Linked DNA regions of Homo sapiens. The protein of the gene in region 1 purifies or fractionates together with the protein of each later gene. This does not show direct contact. Each region holds a gene or a part of one and is shown on either strand. Other genes may lie near its edges.

What was found. Proteins that work in one complex are often made in the same cells at the same time.
Region 2: the proteins of F2RL1 (region 1) and HSDL2 purify together in Homo sapiens (affinity purification with mass spectrometry; 2 studies listed by BioGRID and IntAct, with this or other methods). This does not show direct contact.

Annotation. Positions count from the first base shown.
Region 1 is NC_000005.10:76,822,010-76,829,030, reverse strand, and holds part of F2RL1 (proteinase-activated receptor 2 preproprotein), read right to left. Parts: intron 1-7,021. UniProt on the Homo sapiens protein: Receptor for trypsin and trypsin-like enzymes coupled to G proteins.
Region 2 is NC_000009.12:112,376,089-112,383,128, reverse strand, and holds the start of HSDL2 (hydroxysteroid dehydrogenase-like protein 2), read right to left. Parts: upstream 3,022-7,040; 5' UTR 2,966-3,021; coding exon 2,949-2,965; intron 1-2,948. UniProt on the Homo sapiens protein: Has apparently no steroid dehydrogenase activity. Controls bile acid (BA) and lipid metabolism in response to nutritional cues.

The sequences.
Region 1 (7,021 bases):
AATTCTCCTGCCTCAGCTTCCCAAGGAGCTGGGATTACAGGTGCACACCACTACATCCAGCTAATTTTTGTATTTTTAGTAGAGATGGGGTTTCACCATGTTGGTCAAGCTGGTCTCGAACTCCTGATCTCAAGTGATCTGCCCACCTGAGCCTCCCAAAGTGCTGGAATTACAGGCATGAGCCACTGCACCCGGCCTAAAATAACATTTATAAGACAATTAGAAATTTGAACACAAAGCCAGGCACGGTTGTTCATGCCTATAATCCCAGTGCTTTGCGAGGCTGACGTGGAAGGATTGCTCGAGGCCAAGAGTTTGAGACCAGCCTGGCCAACATAGCAAGACCGTGTCTCTACAAAAAATTAAAAAAAAAAAAAATTAGCCAGGCATGGTGGCGCACACCTGTAGTCCTGGATACTTGGAAAGTTGAAACAGGAAGATCACTTGAGACCAGGAGTTCAATGATTCAGTGAGATTGTGCCACTGCACTCCACTCTGGGTGACAGAGTGAGGCCCCTGTCTCTATATTAAAAAAAAAAAAAAAAGAAAGAAATTTGAATACTGACTGAATATTTGATTATATTAAAAATTAATGTTAGTAGATACTATAATGGCATTATGTTTATATTTGAAAAAGAAATCCCTCATACTTTATTAATACATTCTAAAATACTTTAGGATGAAATTATATCTGAGATTTATTTCACAACCACAGGAATTGAAACTCTCAGACACTGCTGGTAGGAATACGAACTGGTGCACGGCTGGGCAGAGTAGCTCACACCTCTAATCCCAGCACTATTGGAGGCCGAGGTGGGTGGATCACCTGAGGTCAGGAGTTCGAGACCAGCCTGGCCAACATGGTGAAACCCCATCTCTACTAAAAATACAAAAATTAGTCAGGTGTGGTGGCATACACCTATAATCCCAGCAACTTGGGAGGGTGAGACAGGAGAATCATTTGAACCGGGAGGCACAGGTTGCAATGAGCCAAGATCACGCCATTGCACTCCAGCCTGGGCGACAGAGTGAAACCATGTCTATTTAAAATAAATAAAATAAAATAAAATAAAAGGTACAGTTATTGTGGGAAATTATCTGGCAGTTCCTCAAATGGTTAAAGAGTTCCTATATGGCTGGACGCAGTGGCTCACGCCTGTAATCCCAGCAATTTGGGAGGCTGAGGCAGGCAGATCACGAGGTCGGGGTTTTGAGCCCACCTGGCTAACATGGTGAAACCCCATCTCTATTAAAAATACAAAAATTAGCTGGGTGTGGTGGCACACGCCTATAGTCCCAGCTACTCGGGAAGCTGAGACAGGAGAATCATTTGAACTTGGGAGGCGGAGGTTGCAGTGAGCCTAGACTGTGCCATTGCACTCTGGGCAACAGAGCATGACTCCGTCTCAAAAAAAAAAAAAAAAAAAAAAGTTACTATATGACCCAGTAGCTCCACTCCCAGGTATGCAGGAGTCCACACAAAAACCTGTACACAAATGTTCATAGCAGCATTATTTGTTTTTGTTTTTTTTTTGAGACGGAGTCTCGCTGTCGCCCAGGCTGGAGTGCAGTGGCGCGATCTCGGCTCACCGCAAGCTCCGCCTCCCGGGTTCATGCCATTCTCCTGCCTCAGCCTCCCCAGTAGCTGGGACTACAGGCGCCTGCCACCACGCCTGGCTAATTTTTTTTTTTTTTTTTTTTTTTTGTATTTTTAGTAGAGATGGGGTTTCACAGTGTTAGCCAGGATGGTCTCGATCTCCTGACCTTGTGATCCGCCCACCTCGGCCTCCCAAAGTGCTGGGATTACAGGCGTGAGCCACCACGCCCAGCCATAGCAGCATTATAATATAGCACTGTGCCCAGCCCACAGTCAACAAGTGGGCTGGGCACAGTGGTGCTCACCTGTAATCCTATCACTTTGGGAGGATGAGATGGGAGAAGTGCTTGAGGCCAGGAATTTGAGACAAGCCTGGGCAACAGAGCAGAACCCCATCTCTACAAACATTTTACAAAATTAGCCAGGCATAGTGGTGCACACTTGTAGTCCCACTACTAGGAAGGCTGAGGCAGGAGGACAGCTTGAACCTAGGAGGTCAGAGATTACACCACTGCACTCCAGCCTGGGCAACAGAGCAGGACCCTGTCTCAAAAAAAGGAAAAAAAAGTGGAAACAATCCAAATGTCCATCAACAATTGAAAAGAAATAAAAAGCAGTATATCCATACAATGGAATATTATTTGGCTGTTTTCAAAAATCAAGTACTTGGGAGGCTGAGGCAGGCAGATCACCTGAGGTCAGGAGCTCAAGACCAGCCTGGCCAACATGGTGAAACCCAGTCTCTACTAAAAATACAAAAATTAGCCAGAGGTGGTGGTGTGGGCCCACAGTCCCAACTACTCAGGAGGCTGAGGCAGGAGAATCACTTGAAACTAGAGGCAAAGGTTGCAGAGATTGCACCACTGCACTCCAGCCTGGGTGACAGAGCAAGACTCTGTCTCAAAAAAAAAAAAAAGTACTGATACATAGATACATGGATGAATCTCCAAAAGATTATGCTAAGTGAAAGAAGCCAGTCACAGAGGACAACACATTATCCCATTTCTATCAAATGTCTACAATAGGCAAATCCATAAATAGAAAGTAGATTAGTGTTTGCCAAGGGCTAAGACCAGAAGATTGGTGAATGACAGCTAAACTGTTTCTTCCAGGGTAATAAAAATGTTCTAAAATTGTGGTAATGGTTGAATAATTCTATGAACATCCTAAAAGCCACTAAATTGTACAGTTTAAAGGGGTGAATTGTATGGTGTGCAAATTATCTGATATGGAATTCTTGGTAAAGCTGTTAAAAAAAAAACACAGGCTTGGCATCATAGGAAAGGGAAAAAAACAGAAAAGAAATAACAGGGAAGAGGAGTGGGAGGTGAGTTTGGGAATAGATGAAACAAGATTAGCCAACAGTTAATAATTATTGAAGTTGAGTGGTGGATACACTTAATTCACTATAATAGTATATTTCTATAAGATTAAAATTCTCCATAAAAATAAGCATGTACCAAGTCAGGAAAGCTCACATAAAGAGTGCTCAAAATCTGTTTTAAATAAGAATGCTAAAATAAAGACCAAAAAAGGAGCAAGGAATGGCAATATAACAATTTTTTTTTAAAAAGGAACTTTTTCTTAGAATATTTCAACACATAACCTTTAATGGTCTCCATCAAAACTATTGTTGATATTAACTGTTCTATAACACTGGTAAATGTCAAGATGCTACTCGAAGGTCCCTGAAGCCCTTGCCCAGTGCATTTGCTCTGACTCTGTACAGGGTCCTTACCACTCACCAAAACTCACAGAGCTTGTCTAGAGAACCGATGCTATCCCAGCTCCCAATTGTCAACCAGGTAAAATCATTTCTATTTCACAGAGTTGAGGAGAGACTAAATGCACAAATGAAGTTTAAACACAAATAAAGTGCCTGGCTACAATTACATTCCCATTTCTAGGGCTGTAATAAACAATTATTGCCCAAGTGTGTGAAAATACACACTCACAGATGCTCAAGGCAGCATCCCCCCACTCAGTTACAGACAAACAGCTCCTTATTTCTATTCCTAACTTAGCATGTCCCTGACGTAGTCCCTACTACTAAGGGTAGACAATATAGTAGCCAATAATATTGAAATGGAAAGACAGCCACAATATACAGTCAATTGAAAAAAGAAACTGGCCAGGCATGGTGGCTCACACCTGTAATCCCAGCACTTTGGGAGGCCGAGGCGGGTGGATCCTGAGATCAAGAGATCGAGACCATCCTGACCAACATGGTGAAACCCAATCTCTACTAAAAAATACAAAAATTAGCTAAGTGTAGTGCACGCGCCTGTAGTCCCAGCTACTCCAGAGGCTGAGGCAGGAGAATCGCTTGAACCCAGAAGGCAGAGGTTGCAGTGAGCCGAGATCATGCCACTGCACTTCAGCCTGGCAACAGAGTGAGACTCTGTCTCAAAAAAAAAAAAAAAAAAAAATTATAATGTACAATTTGCAAAATCTGAAGTCTAGAAGGATATCCACCAAACAATAAAAAGTGGCTGGCTCTGTGGAGTAGAATAGCTGGGGACAAGAGAACTTTTCTTTTTATTTTACACCTCTCTATATTATTTGAATTTTGTATCTCAAAGGAATATAAATTGATATAATATTTTTGGTGGGTAATTTGGCAAAACATATCAAAATTTTAAATGTATTTGCCATATGACCTAGCAATTTACTTCTAGGAATTTGCCCTGCACCTACCAGCTAAAGTGCACAAAGCTATTTTATGTACTAGAATATTCACTGGAACATTGTTTAGCATGGTAAAACAATGTTAATTTCAACATCTATCAAAAAGGGGAGTAGTTCAGGCCCTGGCAGGGTGGCTCACGCCTGTAAACCCAGCACTTTGGGAGGCTAAGGCGGGCGGATCATGAGATCGGGAGTTTGAGATCAGCGTGGCCAACATGGTGAAACCCCGTCTCTACTAAAAATACAAAAATTAGCTGGGTGTGGTGGCGGGCACCTGTAATCCCAGCTACTTGGGAGGCTGAACCTGGGAGGCTTGAACCTGGGAGGCGGAGGTTGCAGTGAGCTGAGATCACACCACTGCACTCCAGCCTGGGTGACAGAGCAAGACTTCATCTGGGGTTCGGGGATGGGCGGGAAGAGGGGAGTAGTTCAGGCCAGGCATAGTGGCAACCTAGCCATAGCCCCAGCTACTTGGGAGCTCCGTCTAAAAAAAAAATTAGCTGGGGGTGAGCTATGATCCTGCCACTGCACTCCAGCTTGGGTGACAGCCAGACCCAGTCTCTTTAAAAAAAAAAGGGGGGGGGGGTGTGGTGGGGAGGACTAGTTCAATTACCCCCCTATAAAAGTTTGTACAGGGTCGGCGCAGTGGCTCACGCCTGTAATCCCAGCACTTTGGGAGGCCGAGGCAGGTGGGTCACGAGGTCAGGAGACCGAGACCATCCTGGCTAACACGGTTAAACCCTGTCTCTACTAAAAATACAAAAAATTAGCCGGGCATGGTGGCGGGCGTCTGTAGTCCCAGCTGCTTGGGAGGCTGTGGCAGGAGAATGGCATGAACCCGGGAGGCAGAGCTTACAGCGAGCTGAGATAGCGCCCCTTCACTCCAGCCTGGGCGACACGGCAAGACTCCGTCTCAAAAAAAAAAAAAAAAAGTTTGTACAGATTTCTATAAACTGACTATGAATCGATTAGGTAAAAAAGATAAATAAATCATAGCACAGTATGTACAGTACGGTATGCTCCTTCTATTCCTATAAATCATTTGTGCATAGAGAAGTTGAGCTGATGGCCAGGAATAGTGACTCACACCTATAATCCCAGCACTTTGGGAGGCCAAGGCGGGCGGATCACTTGAGGTCAGGAATTCAAGACCAGCCTGGCCAACATGGCAAAATTCTGGCTTTACTAAAAATGCAAAAATTAGCTGGAGGTGTTGGCGCGCATCTGTAATCCCATCTACTTGAGAGGCTGAGGCAGGAGAATCACTTCAACCTGGAAAGCGCAGGTTGCAGTGAGCTGAGATCACATCACTGCACTCCAGCCCTCCAGCCTGGGCGACACAGCGAGACTCCATCTCAAAAAAAAAAAAAAAAAACCAACCAACCAAACAAACAAAACCCGAGAAGTTGTGCTGAGATTGGAGACCAGAAAGAATGAGAGATTTTCACTTTTTTTTAGACCCTTCTGATTTACACAATTTTGGGAAAATCTGCGTGTAAAACTTTTTTTTTTTTTTGAGACTGAGTCTCACTCTGTTGCCCCGGCTGGAGTGCAGAGGCACGATCTCGGCTCACTGCAAGCTCGACCTCCCGGGTTCACGCCATTCTCCTGCCTCAGCCTCCCAAGCAGCTGGGACTACAGGCGCCCGCCACCATGCCCGGCTAATTTTTTGTATTTTTAGTAGAGACAGGGTTTCACCATGTTAGCCAGGATGGTCTTGATCTCCTGACCTTGTGATCCACCCGCCTTGACTTCCAAAGTGCTGGGATTACAGGCGTGAGCCACCACGCTTGGCCTAAAACTTTTAATTTAATTTTTATTTTAAGTATACTCCTCTTGTGGCCCAACCTCCCCATCAAACCAAGTGTAAAACAAGCACTTTACTTGCATTAGTTCTCTTCCTTTCACCCTCTCTTCTCTATGATCCCCTCACCCCAAATGTCCTTTTTTGCTCCCAATCTTTGGGAGCACAGACTGAAAAATAAAGGTTTCAATTGTGGGGTGCCCCTCCCTAGCTAAACTTTTAGTACATTTTCAGAAGTGTTCTTTCAGAATGAACTGTTTTCTTCAACACTTGCCAAGCTAATAAAACCATAAGAAAGTCAAATACAGATTTACTAAAACATCATCTATCAAGGTTATTTAGTAACTACAAAGCAAGCAAAAGGATCAAATTTAAAGTCCTATCTTCCAGTTCATTGCAGTGTTCTGTCATATTACAAAACTTTGGCCAGGCACGGTGGCTCATGCCTATAATCCCAGCACTTTGGGAGGCTGAGGCAGGTGGATCACTTGAGGTCAGGAGTTCAAGATCAGCCTGGCCAACGTGGCGAAACCCCGTTTATACCAAAAACACAAAAATTAGTTGGATGTGGTGGTGTGCGCCTGTAGTCCCAGCTACTCCAGAGGCTGAGGCATGAGAATCACTTAAACCTGGGAGGCAGAGGTTGCAGTGAGCCGAGATCGTGCCACTGCACTACAGCCTGGGCAACAGAGTGAGATTCTATCTCAGGGGGAAAAAAAAAATGGAAATACCACATGTCTATCAACAAAGGACTAATTTTAAAATTGATGCATCCTTCTGTAACATTTTGGAGTCATTAAAAATGTTTTATATGTATTGACATGATACTGATGTGCTTATATAATCCCATACTTGCACAAACATATTTTCTGTATTTGTGAATACATATTTTGTGCATGGATGTAATAAAGAGTGGGAAAATATATAAGCCG
Region 2 (7,040 bases), on another chromosome or scaffold:
GCACTCAAGCCTGGGCAACAGAGCAAGATTCCATCTCAAAAAAAGAAAGACAGAAAGAAAGATCTCGGTTTAACTCAAAGGCATACAGAGCAAGATTCCATCTCAAAAAAAAGAAAGACAGAAAGAAAGATCTCGGTTTAACTCAAAGGCTTACAGAGCAAGACTCCATCTCAAAAAAAAAAAAAAAGATCTTGGTTTAACTCAAAAATGCAAAAGCCTTAAGAGACTGATAACTCTGGCTTCACAAAAACATGTTTCTCCATGTTAAATAAACAGTATAATCAAAGTCCAGATGCAACATGAAAAACTGTGGAAAATATTTGTAATGTGATAAAAGACAAATTTTTAAAATACACAGAGCCCTCAGAGATTAACGAAAAACCTCATTTGTTAAGCCAGACAAATATAAAGATACATAGATGGCTTTAAACCAGGGTTTCTCAACCTCTGCACTACTGACCTTTTGGACTACATAATTCTTTGTTGTACGGAATGCTTGTGAATTGTAGGATGTGCACCAGCATCCCTGTACTCTACTCACGAGATGCCATTAGCATCTCCATTCAATTGTGACTATCAAAAATGTCTTGAGATATTACCAAATGTCCTCTGGGGATCAAATTGTCCCTGGTTTAAATACACAAAGAGATCCAAATCCACACTTGTGATAAAATAAATGCAAATTTTAACAATAATGAGGTGACACTTTTTTCTCTAATTAGATTTTCATCATTAACTATTTTGCGGTTAGCCAACAAGTGGGATTAGAGGATCTCATTTATCCTTTTGGGTGTGCAACCCTTCTGGGGGGTCATCTGGAAATATCTGTCAAAATATAAAGTGCATTTCCTCTTTTTTCTTTTTGAGACAGACTCTCACTCTCTCTCGCAGGGTGGAGGGCAGGGCAGTGGCATGATCTCGGCTCACTGCCACCTCCGCCTCCAGGTTCAAGCGGTTCTCCTGCCTCAGCCTCCTGAGTAGCTGGGATTACAGGTGCCCGCTACCAGGTCCAGCTAATTTTTGTATTTGTAATTTTTGTAATTTTGTAGTTTTAGTGGAGACGGAGTTTCACCACGTTGGCCAGGCTGGTCTCGAACTCTTGACCTCCAGTGATCCGCCCGCCTCGGCCTCCCAAAGTGCTGGGACTACAGGCGTGAGCCACTGTGCCCAGCCACATTTACTCTTTGATCCAGCAATTTCACTTCCAGGAGTTTATCCTACATATACACTTATATATGTGCAAATAGATAAATACAAGTATAATTATGGAAGCAAAAAAAGAGTATCCAAAAAACTGGAAACAGTCTAGTATCCAACAATAGGGAACAGGTTAAATAAACAAAGGTATATTCATATACAGGTTGAGCAAACCAAATCTGAAAATCTGAAATCCGAACACGTCTGGAACCAAGCATTTTGGATAATGGATACTCAAGCTGTTACAGAATATTATGCAACCATTAAAAAGGAGGAGGGGCCAGGCGCAGTGGCTTACGCCTGTAATCCCAGCACTTTGGGAGGCCGAGGCAGACGGATCACGAGGTCATGAGATTGAGACCATCCTGGCTAACATGGTGAAACCCCGTCTGTACTAAAAATACAAAAAAATCAACAGGGCGTGGTGGCACGCGCCTGAAGTCCCAGCTACTCGGGAGGCTGAGGCAGGAGAATTGCGGGAGGCGGAGGCTGCAGTGAGCCGAGATCATGCCACTGCACTCCAGACTGGAAGACAGAGCGAGACTCCATCTCAAAAGAAAAAAAAAGGAGGCGGAAGATCTGCCATGTACTAAAAATGTATGTCCCTGGGCACAGCGGTGCATGCCTGTAATCCTAAATACTCCAGAGGCTAAGAAGGGAGGAACATCAGCCTGGGAGTTCAAGGCTACAGGCCAGTCTGGGCAACATGGGAGACCCCGTCTTTAAAAAAAACAAAGAAAGAATGTCCCAAGACATACCAACTAAAAGTAGCAAGACCAAGAATAGAGTCTGCTGCTATTTTTAAGAAAGGGTATGTGTGTGTGTGTGTGTGTGTGTGTGTGTATCCGGATGTATACAAATTATGTTCATACATGCACGAAATAGAAACGTAAGTAACTGGGGAACTAGATTTTAGGGATGGGGAGACTCACTTTTTACCCTATACTCTTTGAACTGTTTTAAGTCTTTGGCTATATGCCTGCATGTTTCAGGCAAATTACAAAATCTGACAACACGTCACTCAACTCAAGATACCCAGACCTTACATAAACCAGAAAGTAGAATGGTGGTTGCCAATGTACGAGCGGAGGTGGGGAAGAGGAGTTGTTTCATGGATAGAGTTTCAGCTTGCAGATGAAAAAAGTTCTGGAGATTGACTGCACAACGATATGAATCTACTTAACACTACTGAAGTGTACACTTAAAAAACGGTTAAGATGGCAGATTTTGTACGTATTTTAACACAATTTTTTAAGGTGAAAAAAAAATCCCCCAAAGATACCCATGTTTTAAGATCGGTTTAGTTTCTAATTTGGAAATCATTTTTTAAACACTCCATTATTACTCTAGAATTGAGCGTCAGGAACAAGTGAAAACTCTTTAAACTCTGGAGCTGCTCCTGCGACCTTTCACCTAGAACTCACACGCATTCGGCCAGGCACGCACTCCTGCTAAACTCAGGGAGGGCCGGCACTGGGGGCGGCGTGGTGACTCCCCCTCGGCCCTTTACCCGTGGAAAAGGTTTCTACACTGCTGCCATCCTGTAATACAAAAGTTTGTGTTCCTTTTCACACGTTACCGCAGATTCTCGGTGCACAGTGCCCAGCGCGGACCAGAGCTCAGAGCGTGCCCAGGCAGTATCCTTGACCTCCCACAGCCGGGCCGGCCAGCCCGGGCGATCCGCGGCGGCCCCACCGAGACGCGCCCTTCGCCCGACAGGGTCTCTCCCCGCGCCGCCCCTACCCCCTTACCCGGTGTTGGGTAACATGACTTTCGTAGATCAGAGGAGGTGGCGGCGACAGCGGCGGCGGCGAGCAGAGAGCTAAAGCTGGACCGTCCCTCCGCATTTATCCCCGCCCCTGCCCCGCCCCTGCCCCCCCCGATGCCTGTGCGGGAACTGCGCGCGGAAAAGCCGGGATCGCCGAGTGCGCCTGCGTATGCAGTGGGCCTCCTGCGCCCAGCGTTCCTCTTCGTCGCCTCCCAAGCCTGGTCCCTGATTGCAGGCTCTCCGCGCAGGCGCTTTGAGGCACAGCTCCGCCCCGCCCCCTCACTGGTCGTACGGTGACAATCAGGCTCCTGTCGGCGCCTAGCGTCTGGGCAGCGTCAGCCGCTACGTCCACCTTTTCCCTGTCTCTAGGGGTTTCTCCTCGCGCCGCTGTGTTCCAGCGCCGGCTCCGAGCTGGGAGGGTGACTGAGCCCTGAGCTTGGGCCCTCCGAGAGGTGCGTTAGCTCTGGGTCTTCTTGCCCCTACGCCCGAGCCTGGCGTTCTCTCGGCCCCCTCTTAGGAACGCTAGCCCTGGGCAGAAATTGCCTTTGTGGCTGAAGTCGGCCAGCGTCGCGTTTCCACTCTCCCGCCGAATCTGGACCCAAGCCAGCCTTCCCTTGTGCATCGGTAGATAGCTTGTGTTAAGGCGCCAGCTTCTTGGAACAGAGCTCTCTGCAAAAGTCGCGCTGAAGAATTCATAGTCAAAAGCTGAACTTGCAGAAGTTTCTACTTCTGGAATGAGTGTTGAAATGAGATCAATTCTGACATTCAGTTTCGCTTTTGGGATTATGCCTTGGACTAACTCAGCTACTCTGATGAGCTAAAGACTGTAGTATATTTGAAGGAAGACACGAGGAACTGTTTTGTATTTTGTAGGGATAGAACAGGACCTTGAGGAGATTATTATATGAAGACTAGTTAAAGAAACTAGCCTGGAGATGGCTTATGTACTCTCTCCTTTGTTTTTGTTTTGTTTTTTGAGACGGAGTCTCGCTGTCGCCCACGCTGAAGTGCAGTGGCGCGGATCTCGGCTCATTGTAACCTCCGCCTCCCGGGTTCAAGTGATTCTCCTCCCTCAGCCTCCGGAGTAGCTGGGACTACAGGCATGCATCACCACGCCTGGCTAATTTTTTTGTGTTTTTAGTAGAGACGGGGTTTCGCCATGTTGGGCTGGCTGGTCTCGAGCTCCTGACCTCAAATGATTGGCCCGCCTCGGCCTTCCAAAGTGCTGGGATTACAGGCGTGAGCCTCCGCGCCCGGCCTCTCTCCCCTTTGTTATGGGCCCTAAATGACTCTATTTCCTCCTGCATATCACCTGCCCGACTCCTGTAGGCATTTGAATTGATGATTCATGATACGGTCTTTAGAGGCTCCAGAGGAATTTGCAAATTATTATCATCCACTAAGTGATTGCTGATTACCTGAGATACAGCAGCTCAAAAAGGACAAGGTCTCTGCCTATGGGAGGTATGAGTAGCCAGTGTGTTCTTTAGACTGTTGTTAAGCATTAGGTGTTTTAAGAAGAGTGTTGATAGAGACTGTTAGATGAAAATAACTTACTCTCCTCTCATCCTTAGGAGCACTTGCTGAAGCGTGTATATATCTGTCGAATAGAGTGAATTCTTAGTAACGGGGTGACATTTCCTTCATATCATCTAAAATGTTCTCTCCTTTTTGAAAGCCACAATATCTTCAGTCTGTTAGAGCCTCCTTTCTTGAATTTGTGTGCTTCTATTTCCATTTGTTACGGAAAGAGAGCTCAACGAAGAGGCAAAGCAAACAAAAAACCTTTGCCAATTTTTCAGTCATAACGATATTTTGTGAGCCTAAATACCTGTACTTACACTATTTTTATACTTTGCGATGGCTTTCACAGAAGGCAAATATATTCCTAAATTATTAGAGGTAGTTTTACCAAGCAAGTTTAAATCCATTGTATTCAGTACTTTGACTAGAGTTCATTTAAAGTGTGATTTGGAGTTACCCATGACCTTCTACCCCATTACCTTGATTAACCTAGTGTTAGATTAATGCTAGAGGTGAGGAATGGGTGAAGGAGAGGACTTGTGAACATAATTAGATCTTCATTTTGGAAGGTGAATAATTTTGGCTTAGAACACTTCTGACTGCAGCATGAAGAATAGTTTGTGAGTAGATAAAGGCACAGAAGCCATTTAAAAGCCCATAGTAATGTAATGTGTAAGAAAAGTAGTAACCTGAACTAAGGCAGTAATAGTAGAAATGAAAAGACATACTCAAGATATGGAACCTGGCAGATGTAACTAATGATTAGATGTAGGAGCAAAGGGGGAAGATGGTATCAGTGGTGACCTTCAGATTTCTGGTGTAAAGTCCTGGGAGGATGGTGATAACACAGTAAAGAAGTGAAAACAAATGGTTTGAAAAATAGATGTCTTGAAAGTCAGGTAAGTCTCACTCATTTCACCCCTTCTCAGCTTGATAAAACTACCTAAAAATGCAACAGTTTCCTGACAGACTACTGGTTACAACACATTCTCCCAACCAATTTATATCCCTTAAGTTTTGGTTATATGCAACATTAATGTAATTTGGCTAATTTAAACCAAATTAAAGGGGTTGGAGAATTTAGAAGAATTCTGGGATAGTTTATATAACTTAAGGAAGAGCTGAACAACTAAGCTTGACAATGGGAACTAAGGTGCTTCCATGATCCTCAGCAGCATGATCTTTCTAGAATGCATTGTAGGTGGCTTCCCTGTCTTTTCTGTGTATCTGTTCAAGCTTCAAATACTAAGACAGTCTAGTACAATGTGTTTCGTTTTGTTTTGTTTTTTTGAGATAAGATCTTGCTCTGTCACCCAGGCTGGAGTGTAGCAGCATGATCATGGCTCACTGTAGCCTCAACCTCCTGGGCTCAGCCACCCAAGTAGCCAGGACCACGGGCATGTGCCACCACACCTGGCTAATTTTACTTTTTATAGACACAGGGGTCTCACTATGTTGCCCAGGTTGGTCTTGAACTCCTCACCTCAAGCAATCCTCCCACCACACAGCCTTCCAAGGTGCTGGGAAATGTTTCAACCTGTAAATTAGTTGGCCATGGCCAGGGACACAAGTGGATATGGACAATGGGGAAGTAACACAACATTGCATACCTACCTACCCCAGGTCATGGAAGTTGCGTAAATGTAGAGCAAGTAAATTGGCATTCATAATTCTGGGAAGAAAGGGGTCATAAAACTTTTTATTTCATAGGGCTTGTGATGGTTAATACTGAGTGTCAACTTGATGGTATTGAAGGATGCAAAGTATTGGTCTTGGGTGTATCTGTGAGGGTATTGCCAAAGGACATTAACATTTGAGTCAGTGGGCTGGGAAGGGCAGACCCACCCTTAATCTGAGTGGGTACCATCTAATCAGCTGCCAGTGAATATAAGACAGGCAGAAAAACCTGAAAAGATGAGACTGGCCTAGCCTCCCAGCCTACATCCTTCTCCTGTGCGTTTATCCCCTTCTTGCCCTCCAACATCAGACTCCAGGTTCAGTTTCGGGACTTGGACTGGCTCTCCTTGCACCTCAGCTTGCAGATGGCCTATTATGGGACCTTGTGATCATGTGAGTTAATACTTAATAGGCTGGGCGCGGTGGCTTATGCCTGTAATCCCAGCACTTTGGGAGGCCGAGGCAGGCGGATCACAAGGTCAAGAGATGGAGACCATCCTGGCCAACGTGGTGAAACCCCATCTCTACTAAAAATACAAAAAGTAGCTGGGCGTGGTAGCACACACCTGTAGTCCCAGCTACTCGGGAGGCTAAGGCAGGAGAATCGCTTGAACCTGGGAGGCGGAGGTTGCAGTGAGCGGAGACCACGCCACTGCACTCCAGCCTGGTGACAGACCGAGACTCTTTCTCAAAAAAAAAAAAAAAAAAAACTTAATAAACTCCCCTACACACACACACACACACACACACACACACACACACACGTATATAAGGAAGTAATAGGATATATATATATATATATATATCCTCTAGAGAACCCTGACTAATACGGATTTTGGTACCAGAAGTAGGGTCCAGAACAGGAGAAGGCTCT